3 separate regions of the Homo sapiens genome follow, and all the other regions are reported to be linked to region 3. Evidence: microRNA targets listed by miRTarBase, many of them from high-throughput screens and not tested one by one. Region 3 holds a microRNA gene; each other region holds the end of a gene's coding sequence.
The links. The annotated mature microRNA hsa-miR-548k reads AAAAGUACUUGCGGAUUUUGCU and lies in region 3 at 1,957-1,978, shown strand. An mRNA with a match to its seed (bases 2 to 7 or 8) in the 3' UTR can be bound and repressed. Matches are read on the target gene's strand: a 7mer-m8 pairs with bases 2 to 8, a 7mer-A1 pairs with bases 2 to 7 and ends in A, and an 8mer does both.

Region 1 (5,244 bases), not on the chromosome of region 3:
TCTTTGGAAAGAAACAGGCTAACTGATTATTATGAACCATTACTCAAGAACAATTCCACTGCTTATTCAACAAGGGGAAATAGAATAGAAATTTCTTACGAAAATTTACAGGTCACAAATATTACTAGAAAGGGAAGCATGTTACCAGTGAGCTGTAAGTTACCGAATATGGGTACTTCCCAGAGTTACCTTTCCTCATCTATGCCAGCTGGTTGTGTTTTGCCAGTAGGTGGTAATTTTGAGATCTTGTTACATTACTATCTTCTCAATTATGCCAAAAAATGCCATCAATCAGAAGAAACCATGGTTAGTATGATAATAGCTAATGCACTTTTAGGCATTCCCAAAGTCCTTTATAAATCTAAAACAGGAAAGTACAGCTTTCCACATACATATATAAGAGCTGTCCATGCACTGCAAACCAATCAACCCTTGGTAAGCAGTCAGACAGGTTTGGAATCAGTAATGGGTAAATACCAGCTACTAACTTCAGTTCTTCAGTGTTTGACAAAAATATTAACCATTGACATGGTAATCACTGTTAAGAGACACCCTCAGAAAGTTCACAATCAAGATTCAGAAGATGAACTATAACATCAGAAGTTTTTAATTAACCAAACTTTTCATCTAACTCAAGCCAAGTAAAGCAGTCATGTGACCACTGGTTCTAAAGTCAGTTCAGTCTACTTAGGAAAATAGCGTAACTTTAAAAGTCTTTAGAAGAAGCACACTAAGGTCACCAGACCAGATACAAATATTAAATTACTTTATGGAACAAATCTAGAGGGGAAGCCAAGATTTGGCTAAGTGTGTCTGTTTTTTCCCTATTTTATGCCTCTGTGTCTCAGCTCTGTGTTAGCCTATGTGTTTAGGGGAGGGTTTTTCTTTATAGCTCCTTTTTACTCTCCTGTATCTTTTTCACTCCAGCCCTCCTTCATCGTTACATGTTTAGTTCATAGAATCATTTAATCTCTGATTTGGGTGGGCTTATTCTAATTGTTTTTAATATTGAATACATTATTTGCATTAATTTTCCCTACTCATACTTTGTAAAGCTGAGTAAAAGGCTCAAATTATTTTTTTCAAAAAGCATAAAATTAAATTAGCAGTGAGTAAAAGGCTCAAATTTTTTTTCAAAAAGCATAAAATTAATTTTTACTTTTATGTGGTCATTGGTTTACTGCCACTTCATTTGGAAAACTTGGATAGATTTTCACCTTTGATATACCTTTGAATATATGTTACCTGAAATATAACTGTGCATTGTTAACTCTTTCATTTCTGTAGTAAAAGGTTAATACTAGAAAGGATATGCAATTAATACTTTGATTTTCTCCTGACCCCAAGAGCTTGTAAGGATATGTCATGTATTTACTGGTTTTTCTTGTATCTGGTGCATAGCCAGAGTTCCACAGTAACAAATAATTTGACAATTTTTATTTCTAATGTTTATTTCTGTTTTATTTTTAATTTTTATTTCTAATTTATTTCATTTACAAATGTTCATATTTTAAAAACTTGTCAATGTAAATAATATGATGCATCTTATCATGGACAAGGACAGTGTTTTCTACCTTTATCAGTTCTCTGTAATACCCAAAACAGTGCTGTATTTACTCCAAGTATTCAGAAGTGCTTGTTGAACAAAACAGTGTTATCTTTAATTCATTCCTTTAAATACATGTTTCCAGTTTACTTATTCAACAGATTCTTACTTGGGATTGACTGAAGAAAAAAAACTTTAATTATAGTTGAATAAGTGTTGACTAATGTATTTTAAAAACTATAATATCAAAATTTTTTATATTAAATGTAATTCTGATTTTTTAAACATTTATGCTATATGATGCATTATTTTGTTTCTGTGAATATGGAGAGAATAAATTAGCTCTTTTGCTGAATTCATGGATGAATGAACTTTAAAACTGCTGCATAATTTTTTTCATTTTTTTTTTAATTGCCTTTCAGGTCATTTGGTCACTTTGCTTTTTTTGTGGTTGTTTAAAACACTCCTCCATTACTGTAAGCATTTAATGACTTCCAGACATGCCCAGTGCTTTGCATATGATAAGCATTTAATAGGTATAGTCACTAGTCCAGGAGCCCTGTTGAGGTAGGACTGGGTCTTTGTACGTTTGGCACTTGGTCTAATATCTTACACACAATAGATGCCTATTGAGGGCCTATTTGTTGAATGAATCTGTCATTTGGTCCTCATAGATGAGATTATAATTTCTATAAACTTTCATGGGCAAAGGATCTATTTTGGGGAGGAGCAGAAAGTGTAGAACAGATCTACACAAAGTAATCCTTTTCCTTTTCATTAAAAGAAACCCCTCAAAAATGGTGGTAAAACTTTCATGGATTTATCCTTATTTACAGAATAACACTAGAGAGTTTACATCACTGAGTTAGATAGGAAAGCACTTTTAAAAATGTAATTACATTATACTTATACCCTCTACCACAAAGGATGTGAAGTGACCTGCAATAAGAACAGACCATCCCCACCCAAGAAAAGGAACAGACAAAATTACAGTAAAATCTGAATGAAAATTAAAGAATCAAGACCAAGGAAAATGTAAAGGCCAGTTAAAATCAAAATCAAGATCATGTTTCTATTTTTTACTGCTGCATAATGAATAATCCCAAAACTTAGTTTTTTTGAATCATTATGTTATTTACTTGTGGTTCTGGGGGTTGACTGGGCTTAACTGGACAACTTTCACTGCATTCTGTTGTTTGAGCAGTCATAAGCATCACCTGAGGTTCAAAGGAGAAGAATGCAGGCCCCACCACTCAATGGGAACAGTGTCAGTGTCACATCATAAGAGCATGTGGGATGGGATATATTGAGGCAGCTATCTTTGGAAAATACAATCTGCTACACCATGGGAGGGAAAAGACAAATACGCATTAACTTCTCAACTGCGTTTCTTTTTATTATTAAGTTACATGTCGATCCACCTCCCACAAACACATTTTCTCCAATAACCTTTATAGACCTTCTTATTTTTTCTCATTGGGCCAGCATGAGCCATTTTTATTTTCAAAGCAATAGTTAAACTTGAACATCCTTGAGCTGATTCAGCCAGGGATGCTATTTAATCATGTTGTACAGGAATTGCCATGTTATCCACATTTCAGACTAAAAGGGAAGGGGAAGAAGAATGCAGTTTGAGCCTGAACTTTTATCAGAAATTGCCTCTCCTCTCCCAAAAGAAGTAGAATATGTCTTTCTCATCTTCACAGCTTAGCAGAGAAAACAAAAACTACAGCTCACAAACCATGTATATGTATGTATATATAGTTATTAATTGCAACTTTGTCATAGCAAAAGATTGCTAACAGCCTAAAAGCTAGATGGATTCACAAAGAGAGGCAATGATTTGGAGGGGTGGGGGAGGAGATACCAATCAATCAGGAGGAGGTAGGAAGATTTCTCAATGTCATTTTGATTTTTGAACCAATTGAATATTACCTATATAAAAATGAAATAAGATTTTAAAATAGATCTAGTGCAAGCACATAGAGAATACTCTCCAAATAGTAATTAAGTAATAAGGACCCTGATCTAAGGAAATGCAAGATCAGCATGGAAGAAAAACTGTGAGACACCCTGACAAATAAGTAGAACTTTGACAATAAAAGATATACACCTGAAAAAAAGGAATATTCTCTTAGCTACACCTGGCTTAGGATTGTCTCACCAGTTCTGGAAATATGAGAACATTCTCACTAGGCAGGCTGCAAAGAGGTGTGAGCTGTGAAAGAGTGCCAGCAAGCAGTGCTTCATTCTCGGGGGAATTTCCACAGTGCAGGGTCTGGCTCTCCCTTATGCAGACTCACCATCAGATTTTTGTGAGCACACTGATTATGGCTTTGTCTCAGGGGCTAACTCACGCTAAGCTTGTGAATGTGATAAATTTATTTACAGTGAGAACTCTCCCAGGAACTAGAATATTCCAAGTCCATTTGGCCAATCTTTCCTTTATGTGTGGATCTCTATGGGAAGTCAAACAATAATCAGGTGCTTGCTCAGTAAGCGTGGAATCAGAACAAGAGAAATCAAATGAAATATATGGTCCTCTTTCCAGTCCATTCATGCTCCGGTTCCCCATGGCATAGTCCTGGCCCTCCTCTACCTATACTTGCTTCCTAGGAGAGCCTATCCATCCATGGCTTGGGTGCCAATAGATGCTGATAATCCCAAATTATATATTTCCAGCCTAGACCTCTTTGAATTCTCAACTCATTTATCCACCTGCCAACCCAGTCTCCACTTGGATGCTCACCCTTAACGTGCCCAAAATAGAATTGCTATTTCCCATTTCCTAACCCTAGCCCTCCCACTGTCGCCCCATGTCAGTTAATGGTACCACCCACCTCCCACCTGCTCAGGACAAAAACCTAAGAAACACATTGACTTGTCTTCATGCTCCACAACCAATCTATCAGCAAATCCTGCTGGCTTCAAATACAAAACGGGTTTCAGATCCACCCGTTTCTCACCACTGCCACCGTTGCCACTCCAGCCCAAACCACTTCATCTCACCTGCACTAGCTCATAATGGTCTTATAGTTCTCTAGAGTGATTCACCCTGACTTTATTTAAAAATGTAAACCCACAAAAAAGTGAAAGAGTACAATGAAACCTTCATCTAGATTCACCAAGTAATCTAGATTTTAGCCCGTTTGTGCACACATTTTACTGAACCAATTGAAAGTAAGTTGTAGAAAGCATTATACTTTATCTTTCAATACCTCAGTATGTGTTTCCTATGAATAAGAAGTTTTCCCTACGTGACTGATTCTTTTGAAAGGCAAATCATGTCATGTTCCCCTGCTCAAAGTCCTCCAATGATTTTTCCTCATACAGAATGCAATCCAAATTTGTCATAGTCTACAAGGCTTAGCATGACCTGACCCCCACCTATTCCTTAGATCTCATAGTCTACCAGTCCCTCTATCTTACATTCCACCAGTTACACTTACTGTTTCTGTCTGGATAGGTTACACCATACTGAAATATCCCCAAATCTCACAGGCTTAAAACAATACAGTCAGGTATGGTGGTGTGTGCCGGTAGTCGCAGCTACTCAAGAGGCTGAAGCAGGAGGATCTCTTGAGCCCAGGAGTTTTGAGTCCAACCTAGGCAATAAAGCGAGAGCCCATTTCCAAACAAAACAAAACAAAAGCAACCACAATATAAATAGTTCTTACTCAAATTACATGCCTACTAGA
Region 2 (5,244 bases), not on the chromosome of region 3:
AAAAACCCAGCAGCTTTTAAGTTATCTTGTGTACATGGTTTAACAGAGGTATGGTCTTATTATGGAAAGAGTGTTCAAACCAGGCCAGAAGAATTTCATAGCCATGTTCATATTCAAGGCAACCATAATATTCTACTTTGCAAAAACAGGTTGGGCAACCAGCCTTTTAAGTCACTATGTCTGCATTTGGGGTATCTATAAGTAGGTAGAATCTAGTGTCCAATTGGAAATATTTCTAACTTCTCTTGTTCTCAAAACCATGATCTAGCACTTCAGTCCTCTTATGTGGTCTTCTGTCATAGCAGTCCCACTCAGTACAGAGCAGTTAATGAGATATTATAGAATGAAAACCAAGACCAGGTATTTCTTAAATTTATTGAAGAACTCTTAGCTGGGAGAAGAAAGATCACAGGCTTAAACAATTGTAAGATAAAAGAACAATTAATTGCAAATAATTACAAAAGTAATTTCTGAAATTTTTTGAGCCACTGCTGAAACAAAACTTTAGTGCATCTCAAAGTTCGTATTTTGTTAAGTGAACATATTAAATTACTGAAAAGCAAAAAAGAGTTACTGTTACACAGTACAAGATCTTAATATAGTAACTGAGCACAGCCAAATAAACAGCTATAATTATTCCAAGCTGCTTTTGCTATGTATCTGGTATATTAAACAAGAAAGTGGATTACTTTTAACACTGCACAAGTAACCAAAGGTAGCAAATCCAGCAATATTAAAACCGGATATTAAATAGTATTCAAACATTACAACAAAAACAAAATAAGAACTTCTAGAACTAGAACTCTACCCTATGAAAGGAATGTACACAGATGGTTAAAAAAAAACCAATAAATAAATAAAGTGACAAGAGTGACTAATTCTGTATCCACATCTTCAGAGCAGGAATACAGTAAATGAGTAAATGCTTAGAGGAGTCTTGCTGAAAATGAGAAAAAATGCATCTCACTTTAGTATAATTTTTCTAAATTCTCACTGAAGCTCTAATTCTCTTGTGCTGGTGACAGGTGGACAGGGTTTTTAAATGCAAAGTATTCTCCCTACACCCTGAGTATGGATGCATCAGTTGTTTAAAATTCTGTGGAAAGTTTCCTTAGAAAAACATAAAATTTAAAGTGATATACTGATGGGAAATTGAATATATTAATTGTGGAAGAATATCAGCTAACTAATTAACTAAGTAGACATTTAAATCTGGACTCTGTTGAAGAATCAAGGTTAAACTCTGCATTATGTGCACTAATGTCAGCCATCTAATATCAAAGTCAGATAAGTAAACTATCTTTCACTTTATACATAGTGCATTTAGTAAATAAATTCTCTTACCAGCAACATAAAGCCCTTGTTGGAGCAAAATTAAAGTATTAAGAATTGAATTAACTTACAACAAATATCTGAAGGGTAAGTGGAACATTTTTCAAAGTATAAAGATGTTATCACATATATTCACCATGAATCCTCTTAAAGGTTTTATAACACCATTAAATTATATCAAATATCCAACAGATATTGTCATTTTCTTCTGTGATTTATAAAGGAAACATTCCTTTTGTACAAATCAGAAGTATCTTAAAAATCAACCTTAACACCAAAATATACATGTAATTTTAACTTGGTTTAGGAAAACATGAAAGAACTGTCACATTTTGGTGTGAACAAGGTTCTGAAAACCCCCTATCAGAGGTCTCATTCACTTTTTTCCACATATCACTTGAAGGTTTTGAAACTGGTAAAAACAGAATTCAGCTCGATGTACATCAAAACTTTAACAGTTCTGAAAAAGACGTATTTCGTAAGGGCCAAAATGTACAGCACAGCAATATTACAATGTTACAGTATAAATATGTCAAGCCAATTTGTAATAAAATAAGACAGTTGTCTTCAAAAGAGCTGTTTGACTATAGAGCAACCAAATAGATCTAGAACATCTTTGGAAAAACCACAAAGTGCCTTTACAGAAAGTTAAGTTTAGACTACACTTAATTAAAAGATAATACTCTAAACTCAAAATTATTTTCTCTATATGAGGAATTTTGACACTTGTTTTCACACCTGCCAATATTCAATATTTTTAACTCACACTTCTTTTCATACATCTGCCAATATTTAATATTTTATTCTATGCCCCTGCACTGAATTGATGTAAGTGTGAAGTTCCACTATTATTATTACCACACATGCTAATACCTAATAACTGGTCTGTCATTATGTAGTGGTTAAATAAGCAAATGCTGAACTCAGCACAGCTCTAGCAAAATGCAAAGGAAATAAGAAAAGCCTCACCTCAGAATGATTACACCATAAACAGAAATAAACATTTTCAAACACAAAGTTTCACAAAATAATATATCATCACTTTAAAAGAAATTCAGAACTCTATTTTGCTGTTGATCAAACTTGTGCATACACTCAAGTTACTAAACACAATTTGATAGTTAGATACTTGTAAAAATGCATTCTAAACTTAATAATCAATTAATTCATAATTAACAAGAGCAAACATTCCTAGTCCTAACATTTAAAAAAACCCAGTCCAGTGCTGCCACATCTCAAGTTCTGAAAAGCTAAAGGCAGGAACAATTCTGGTTATACAATTCCTGCATTTCTCCACCTTAAAAAATACTTGAAGAAACTTTAGGAAACTTTATATTAAGGCTTGCTGTATTTCTGTATCTTAAATTGAGAAAAATCAAAACCTACGATGTAACCTCGAATTATTTAAATAGCTTTTGGCATTTTTCTTGAAAAGCAAATTTGAATCTTTCACTATAAAACATTTCTATACCACAATTACTAATTCACATTAATGTGTAAGTGCCCTCATTTCCTATTCCCTGGCAGGCGCTATGTCTTCTTTCTACGTTTTGTGCAGCTTTCAGAACAGTCAGTGCTCAGAAAAAATGAAAACGTAATGGAGCAAAATCAAAGTCCCCAAAAAAAGTGATTTATCCTAGATTACAAAATCCAGTAGTGGAAGAACCAACATTTACACACCCAAATACACACACACCCACACATACACAGGACACAGCGAGAGATGAGAGAGAGTGGGGGGTGGGGGAGGTGAGAGACAGTGGGAGGAGGGGGGAGGGGGAAGAGAGTGGGAGGAGGGGAGAGAGAGTTGCAGGGAGGGAAGAGAGAGACAAAAGCAAGACACAACCTTTGTCCTCTATTCATGTCAACTTGCAGTTTCTGGACACAAACTAGTAGGAAATGTAGAGCCCAGAAAGATCGTGTCAGAGAACTTGACGAGACAGTGTAGATATAGTTTATCTGGGTGGGGCGGGGTGGGGGGAAATCCCAATTTTTCTAAAACAAACAAACAAACAAACAAAAAAAACACCACATTCTTGGTAGAGGTTTTTTCAAAAATCCAACAATAAAAACTACTGGGCTTCTCTAAATGCATTTCCATATTAACATTAATTTTTAAAATTTCAACATGTTTTACAATTTAAGTTTTCACTTGTAAGATAAGTTGGGAACCCAAAATTGTCAAAAAAAATTTTAATTATTGTCAATAAAAATTCTTACTGCACAATCTTTATAGGCGTTTTATTTTAAAGCACCTTTTTAAATTTTAACAGTGGGTTTCTAAAAAGAAAACAGTAAAATAAAAGAGGGAACAAACTGGCAAGGTTAAAGTACTCCCTTACACACACACACACACACACACACACACACACACACACACACACCTTTCATGCCAGAATGACTGGCAGCATTGGCAAATAATGTCAATGAAAGGATGGGGGAAACTATCACTTATAGTGTTTATAGAAACCTAAAATACTAATGTTTCTGCTAAGAAATTAAATAGTTTGGGGAAATCAAAAAGCTACCAATAGCTGATCTATGAAATATGAAAATGAAACTGATTTTTAAAAACAGGAAAGGCCAAAAATCTACTAGAAATTTTTAAAAATCAGCCTCAATTTTATTTTCTGATGTCAGACTAGTTATTAATTAGATACCATTTGTTTGCAAAGGAGCAAAATTATAACTCTATCACTGGAACCTATCCTCAGCCACTTCAGTGCAGTTTCTAGCAGCACTATTTGGATACAAAAAGAATGTGGTCAGACAATGCCCCTGAAAACCCCCTGGTTAGACCTTCCTTCAAATACATGTTCTTAGGGTCTTGACACACTACACATGTGTATAGAAGAATAAATGAAGGTAGTATTTTGACAGATTACAAAAGTATGAACTATATACACCGAGTGATAACACAAAGCGCTCAGAAAGCTATATTTACTTGCCTCCCAACTGACTTACGATGTTAATATTCACTATTCAAATTTTATCCTAAACATCTTTATTGGCTTGTTCCCCTCCCCAAACAAATACTAAAATATACTGGTTTGGGGTTTGCTCTATGCATTTTCCAAGAGCCAATCAAACAGCGACTTGCATCTCTCCTCACTGGAAGCTTTTTCCATCACTTCATAGTATTGAAGCACAGCCTGCAGGAGGTCTCCCACTTTCCATCCTTTCTCTTGTAATTGTTTTGAAAGCTAAGAAAGAAAGATGTGTCAAACATTAACCAAAAACAATTTTATAACAAAGCTTTTATTTTTATTTTCAATATTAGCTGAAACTTAAGAATCCTGCTGTTTACAATTAAATACCGTTTCCTAGTTATAACAAGGTCTTCCCCTCTAAACCGCTACCCCTTTACCCAAATTAAACATTTTCCCTTCTTCCCCTTTATAAACACATCTCCTCCAGAGAATGACACTTTGGGATCGCTGGAGACAGAGCTCCACAAACCTCACCAAGCAAATAGTCTGCATGGACATGCAGAGGCTGAGTTTCTACAGGAAATTCTTCACCTAACTAAATACAACTGCCACACCCTCAATTAGGACATAAAATAATAAAGACAACGTCAAACTCAATAAAAGGATGTGGATTTTCCTTCCACAACATATAGTGTGGCATTTTTCTGGAATACACACTCTAGCCTCAATGGAAACATGGCTTTCTAAGTTAAAGAATGTTAATGTTTCAACAACAAAACAACAAATAAATAAATAAATAAATACAGGTTTAAATAAATCCTGTTGTCACCACTCACGACATGCTTTTGTTCATTTCTTTTTCTACTAAGTTCTGTAAAAGCTCTTAAGTTTTGAAAGATCTGTAAGTTAAATTCTGAAAAACTACTTTAATTTTGTGTAACATATATATGCTTAACCTTTTTAAAAACAGCTTTATTGAGAT
Region 3 (5,530 bases):
AGTTTCTTTTTTTTTTTTCCAGTCTGCTTCTCATGACATTGTCCAGTTTCTAATCAGAATCCCCCATTTGCCCCTGCCCAGTCACTTAACCACTTAAAGACAGTAGAGCAAGTGGCCTGCCCAGCGGGAGACACAGCCCTTGGCCTCCAATTCCCGTCTTGGCCACTGTGTGGGCTGTTCCACCCTGCTGTAGTCTCTACTCTTCCCCATGCCCTGTGTCAGACCGAGGGAGGGTTTGTGATGACATATCTGGCAGTGGCAAAGAAGGAGGCTAGGGAGGTAGGAGAGGTTGTGTGCGTGGTGTTTAGTCTTACTTTGGAGATGGGGTCTTGCTGTGTTGCCTAGGCTGATCTCCAACTCCAGGGCTCAAGCCATCCTTCTGCCTTGGCTTCCTGAGTAGCTACCACTACAGGCATGAACCAGTGTGCCCAGCTACCTAATGTTTATTCTATGACTTGATCCCATGTATGTTTCCTTTTTGAGTGCTGATTTTTTTTTTTTTTTTTTTTTTTTTTTTGAGATGGAGTCTTGCTCTGTCACCCAGGCTGGAGTGCAGTGGCGTGATCTCGGCTCACTGCAAGCTCCACCCCCTGGGTTCACACCATTCTTCTGCCTCAGCCTCCCCAGTAGCTGGGACTACAGGTGCCCGCCACTACATCCAGCTAGTTTTTGTTTTGTATTTTTAGTAGAGACAGGGTTTCACCATGTTAGCCAGAATGGTCGCGATCTCCTGACCTCATGATCCACTGCATGCCTTGGCCTCCCAAAGTGCTGGGATTACAGGCGTGAGCCACCGTGCCTGGCTTTTTTTTTTTTTTTTTTTTTTTAAGAAGGAATTTTGCTCTTGTCGCCCAGGCTGGAGTGCAATGGTGCGATCTCAGCTCACTGCAACCTCCATGTCCCAGGTTCAAGCGATTCTCTTGCCTCAGCCTCCTGAGTAGCTGGGACCATAGGCGTGCATCACCATGCCCGGCTGATTTTTGTATTTTTAGTAGAGACGGGGTTTCACCATGTTGGTCAGGCTAGTCTTGAACTTCTGACCTCAGGTGATCTGCCCGCCTCAGCCTCCCACAGTGCTGGGATTACAGGCATGAGCCATCATGCCTGACCGACTGACCGAGTGCTTTTTTTTTTTTTTAAAGCAAATATTGCCTTTGGGCTTCTCTCTAATTTCATTTTAAAGTTTCAGTTGCATTTTCAAATGGAGATTTTATTTTAAACTGGAGTGCAGTGATTTTTACAGTCTTTTTGAAAGCAACAAATGAGATTTTTAGAAGACCTCTTGCTTGAAGAACTCTTTTGTGTGAAACCTAGAAGAGAGACTGTTCACCTTTCATTGCAGGTGAGGTCCCAAATTTTGCCAGTCTCTCTCCCAATCTGCCAATCCCTGAAGCAGGGGGTACAAAACTCAGAAGATTCTAAGGAATGAGGTCTTCAAATCAAATCCAAACTTAGTGAAAAAGAAGTCTACCTGTGTCAGGGGTGTTCCCTGTCAAAGTGATGGGTGAGCTTCAGCTGGTTGCAGTGGAAGGTGTGCTGGATGGATTGAGGAGGCGAGAGGGTGCAAGACAGCCCATTTAGGAGGCAGTTCCTGCAATGTGGGCATGAAGTGTTACAGCCCAAACTAGGATGCTAGAATCCGAGGGCAGAGGGCAGTAGAAAAGAACAACCTGGCGGAATTGTGTAGGACTAGAGGATGACAGCCGAGTGGCAGATACCAGGGTCAAGCTTGCGGGGAGAAGGGGGACGGGGGTGGGGGAGAGTAAAGAGGAGACGCTGGTGTTTGGTGGTGTTGAGAGGTATTTGTGGTTGTCACAGCTAGGGCAGGGATGCTCCTAAACATTCTGCAGTGGAGCCCCCTCAACAAAGAATTATCTGGCCCCAAATGTTGGAAGTGTCCAGGTTTAGGTATAAAGAATCAGAAGCTTTTCTCAAGTATTGCTGTTAGGTTGGTGCAAAAGTACTTGCGGATTTTGCTTTACTTTTAATGGCAAAAACCGCAATTATTTTTGCTTCAACCTAATATGATGCAAAATTGGCTACAACTGTAATTTGTTGAGTGCTGCAAACAAGGTACTTGCTAAGCTTAACTTTAGTGAACAAATTAGGAAGAATTGGAATAAGGTAAAACTAGCTAAATGACTCTTCCCTGAGAATAAATACTAATGACTGCCCCTTCAGATGGTGCCCCCTCATCTGCTTTACTGACTGTTTCTTAGTAGTAGTTGGCAAAACACCTCTTAAAATACCATACTTGTTTTCATCGTCTTTGGTGTATGAAATAGTTGAATATATCCTTTCAGAATAATATTTGGCCATTTACATCTCTCTTTTGCACACACTGAATTTGCCATCTTGTCTTCCTGTTCCTACACCTTTAATTGTCAGCAAGGAGACAGAGTCCTTCCTCCTATTTTGTTGAGCCCTGTGTGAATATTACCGTTCTAGGCTCCTGCAGTCAGTGGTAGAGACAGGGTCTCTGCCTGCAGAAGACTTTCACAATATACCCATGCTCAAAGCAGGTGCAGGTTGCGAGACACATCCAGATAGAATGAAGTGGTTCAGAAGAAATCCATGATCTCGACTGAGTGGGGTGGGCTGCCAGGCACACTGTGGTCCAGAAAGGTGAGGCTTTCGAGGGGATTGGCTTAGAGCTGAGGGATGAAGGCTAAGAGGAACCAGGTATGAGAGCTTTCTTGGCGGTGGGGCTACTTGAGCAAAGGCCAGAGCAAGGGAGAGCTTAGCATTTAGCTGAGTCAAAGCTGGGGTCTGTGGCCATGGTTACTTGGCCTGGAGGGAAGGGAAGAGTGAACATGGTAAGGTTGGCTAGGTAGGTTGGGATGGGATCAGACAGAGGTGAAGACTTGCTTGTTTTTGTTTTAAGTACCTTAGGGCTTCAGTACTTTGCGTGCATCGTGGCCTCAGGGGAGGGAATGATGTGATTTAGCTGCGTTGTTATTTATTTATTTTTATTTATTTATGTATTTCTTTATTTAAGATGGAGTCTTACACTGTTGCCCAAGCTGTAGTGCACTGGCATGATCTCGGCTCACTGCAACCTCTGCCTCACAGGTTCAAGCGATTCTCCTGCCTCAGCCTCCCAAGTAGCTGGGATTACAGGCGCCCGCCACCGTGCCCGGCTAATCTTTAGTAGAGACGGGAGTTTCACCACGTTGCCCAGGCTGGTCTTGAACTCCTGACCTCAGGTGATCCTCCCTCCTTGGCCTCCCAAGTTTTTAAAAGATCATGCTATGTGGATAATGAGCTGGGGATGGAGGGAAGAATGGACCTAGGGTGGAAACCACTGGTTAGAGTAGAGCCACTTCAAGTGCATGGGTTTGGGCTATAAAGTTAGTGCTGTGAGCAAAAATTAAAAACTCTTGCCGGGTGCGGTGGCTCATGCCTGTAATGGGAGGCCGAGATGGGCAGATCACGAGGTCAGGAGTTCGAGACCAGCCTGGCCAACATGGTGAAACCCTGTCTCTACTAAAAATACAAAAATTAGCTGGGCGTGGTGGTGCGCAGCTGTAATCCCAGCTACTCGGGAGTCTGAGGCAGGAGAATCGCTTGAACCTGGGAGGTGGAGGTTGCAATGAGCTGTGATCGCACCACTGCACTCCAGCCTGGGGGACAGAGTGAGACTCTGTCTCAAAAAAAAAAAAAAAACCTCTTAACATCACCCATCACATAAGGCACAGAACAATGTGTACTTTTTAATTATCATATACATAAATGCATACTGTTTTCATGCAGTATACATAATGTTTATGTATATAGTGTATACATGAATGTATTCAGGTATTTTGAGTGTCTGTATGTGGCATGCACCGTTCTAGGTGCTGAATATTCCATAGGTAAAAAGGGTTATTTAGCCCACATTTTTTTCGTTGTATGAAGAGAAATGGAAAAAACCAAACTTACATAGTTCGGTTTGAGCAAGTTAAATGCATGGATGATGTAATGTGGGAGCACTTTCCACTTTTCGTTGATGTTTGTGTAGGCAGAACTAGGGAGGTGGTTTTCCTTGGGAGTTTCAGCTGCCCACTGTACTCCTCCACTCTTGGCCACTGTGCCTCGCAGGTGCCTTACCTGACTGCCATGCTGTGTACTTTCATTTGGGCAGGCTTTGGGCTCCTTAAATTCAATATTGGCTCAAACCATCTTTCCCCCGCATCCGTACCCCATCCTGTGAACGGTAGTTTTCTACGTAGTCAGGTGGCTATGTCTCTTCTTTTCTTTTGAGATGGAGTCTCGTCCTGTTGCCCAGGCTGGAGTACAAGGGCACAATCTCAGCTCGCTGCAATCTCTGCCTCCCGGGTTCAAGCGATTCTCCTCCCTCAGCGTCCCAAGTAGCTGGGACTACAGGCACATGCCACCGCGCCCTGCTAATTTTTGTATTTTTGTAGAGACGGGGTTTCACCATGTTGGCCAGGCTGGTCTTGAACTCCTGACCTCTGATGATCTGCCCTTCTTGGCCTCCCAAAGTGCTGGGATTACAGGCGTGAGCCACTGCTCCCGGCCCTATCTCTTTTCTGCGCTAACCTTATCCTTCTAGTCTCCAGGACCTGTGGGATGGACCTTTCCATCTCTTGGAGGTTACCCCTGAGGCCCACTGACTCTCAGACCCGAACCCTTTGTCTTCACCGGGTTGACTCCCATGGCCCCTGTTCTGGAGCCTCTCTGCAGTATCTTATCCCTTTTTGCAGCAAGATCTTTCTTTCTTTCTTTTTTTTTTTTTTTTTTTTTGAGACAGGGTCTCACTTTATCACCCAGGTGGAGTGCAGTGGTGTGATCGGGCTCAAGCAATGCTCCTACCTCAGCCTTCTAAGAAGCTGGGACTACAGGTGTGCGCCACTATGGTTGGCTAATGTTTTTTCTGTGTGTGTATACACACATATATATACACATATATATACACATATACTATATATATACATATACACATATATGCACATACACACACACACACACACACACATACATATATGTAATTATTATTATTTTGTAGAGCAGGGGTCTTGCTATGTTGTCTAGGCTGGTCTCGAACTCTTGAGCTCAAGTGATTCGCCCACCTCAGCCTCCCAGAGTGCTGGGATTACAGGCGTGAGCCACCACGCCGGGCCAAGATCTTTCTAAAATGCATGTACAGCTGCCTTTCCTTTGCTCAGAACACTTGAGCTCTCCATTCCTCCTCGGGCTGAAGACTCCTGTGTCATCACATCCTGGCCCAGCGCCTCCCTGCTCTCCCAGTTGTGGATAGTTCCTCACTTGCAGACTCCTTTTTTTTGTACAACTTTGTAAATAAGCCGTTGTCTGAGATTAGGCCTTTCTTATCTTCTACTTGCCAACTTCATTCTAGCTACAACCAAGTAATTTGGTGCAGCTCTTTCAGCGATCCGGTTTTGCCCTGTGTATACTGATTCTCAAAAATGCCCATATTCTGATGCAGTGGTTTGACTTCAGCTAAGTTTTTTTTTTTTTAGTAGATACAGGAGTCTTTATGTTACCCAGGCTGGTCTCCAATCCTGGT

Region 1: miRTarBase lists BBS10 as a target of hsa-miR-548k. Seed matches in the 3' UTR shown: 7mer-A1 at 764-770.
Region 2: the mRNA of AKAP11 is a reported target of hsa-miR-548k. Seed matches in the 3' UTR shown: 8mer at 3,659-3,666 and 7mer-A1 at 1,376-1,382.

The regions. Positions count from the first base shown.
Region 1 is chr12:76,341,163-76,346,406 of GRCh38, reverse strand. It overlaps BBS10 (Bardet-Biedl syndrome 10), which reads left to right. Exons shown (of 2, transcript NM_024685.4): 2 at 1-1,933. The coding sequence ends at 594. Among named protein-coding and RNA genes, the nearest start is that of BBS10, 4.6 kb to the left of the region's middle.
Region 2 is chr13:42,318,379-42,323,622 of GRCh38, reverse strand. AKAP11 (A-kinase anchoring protein 11) reads right to left here. Exons shown (of 13, transcript NM_016248.4): 13 at 362-4,535. The coding sequence ends at 4,395. Among named protein-coding and RNA genes, the nearest start is that of AKAP11, 49 kb to the right of the region's middle.
Region 3 is chr11:70,282,030-70,287,559 of GRCh38, forward strand. MIR548K (microRNA 548k) reads left to right here and starts at 1,926; the gene lies at 1,926-2,041. The region is part of intron 2 of PPFIA1 (PPFI scaffold protein A1); the gene reads left to right.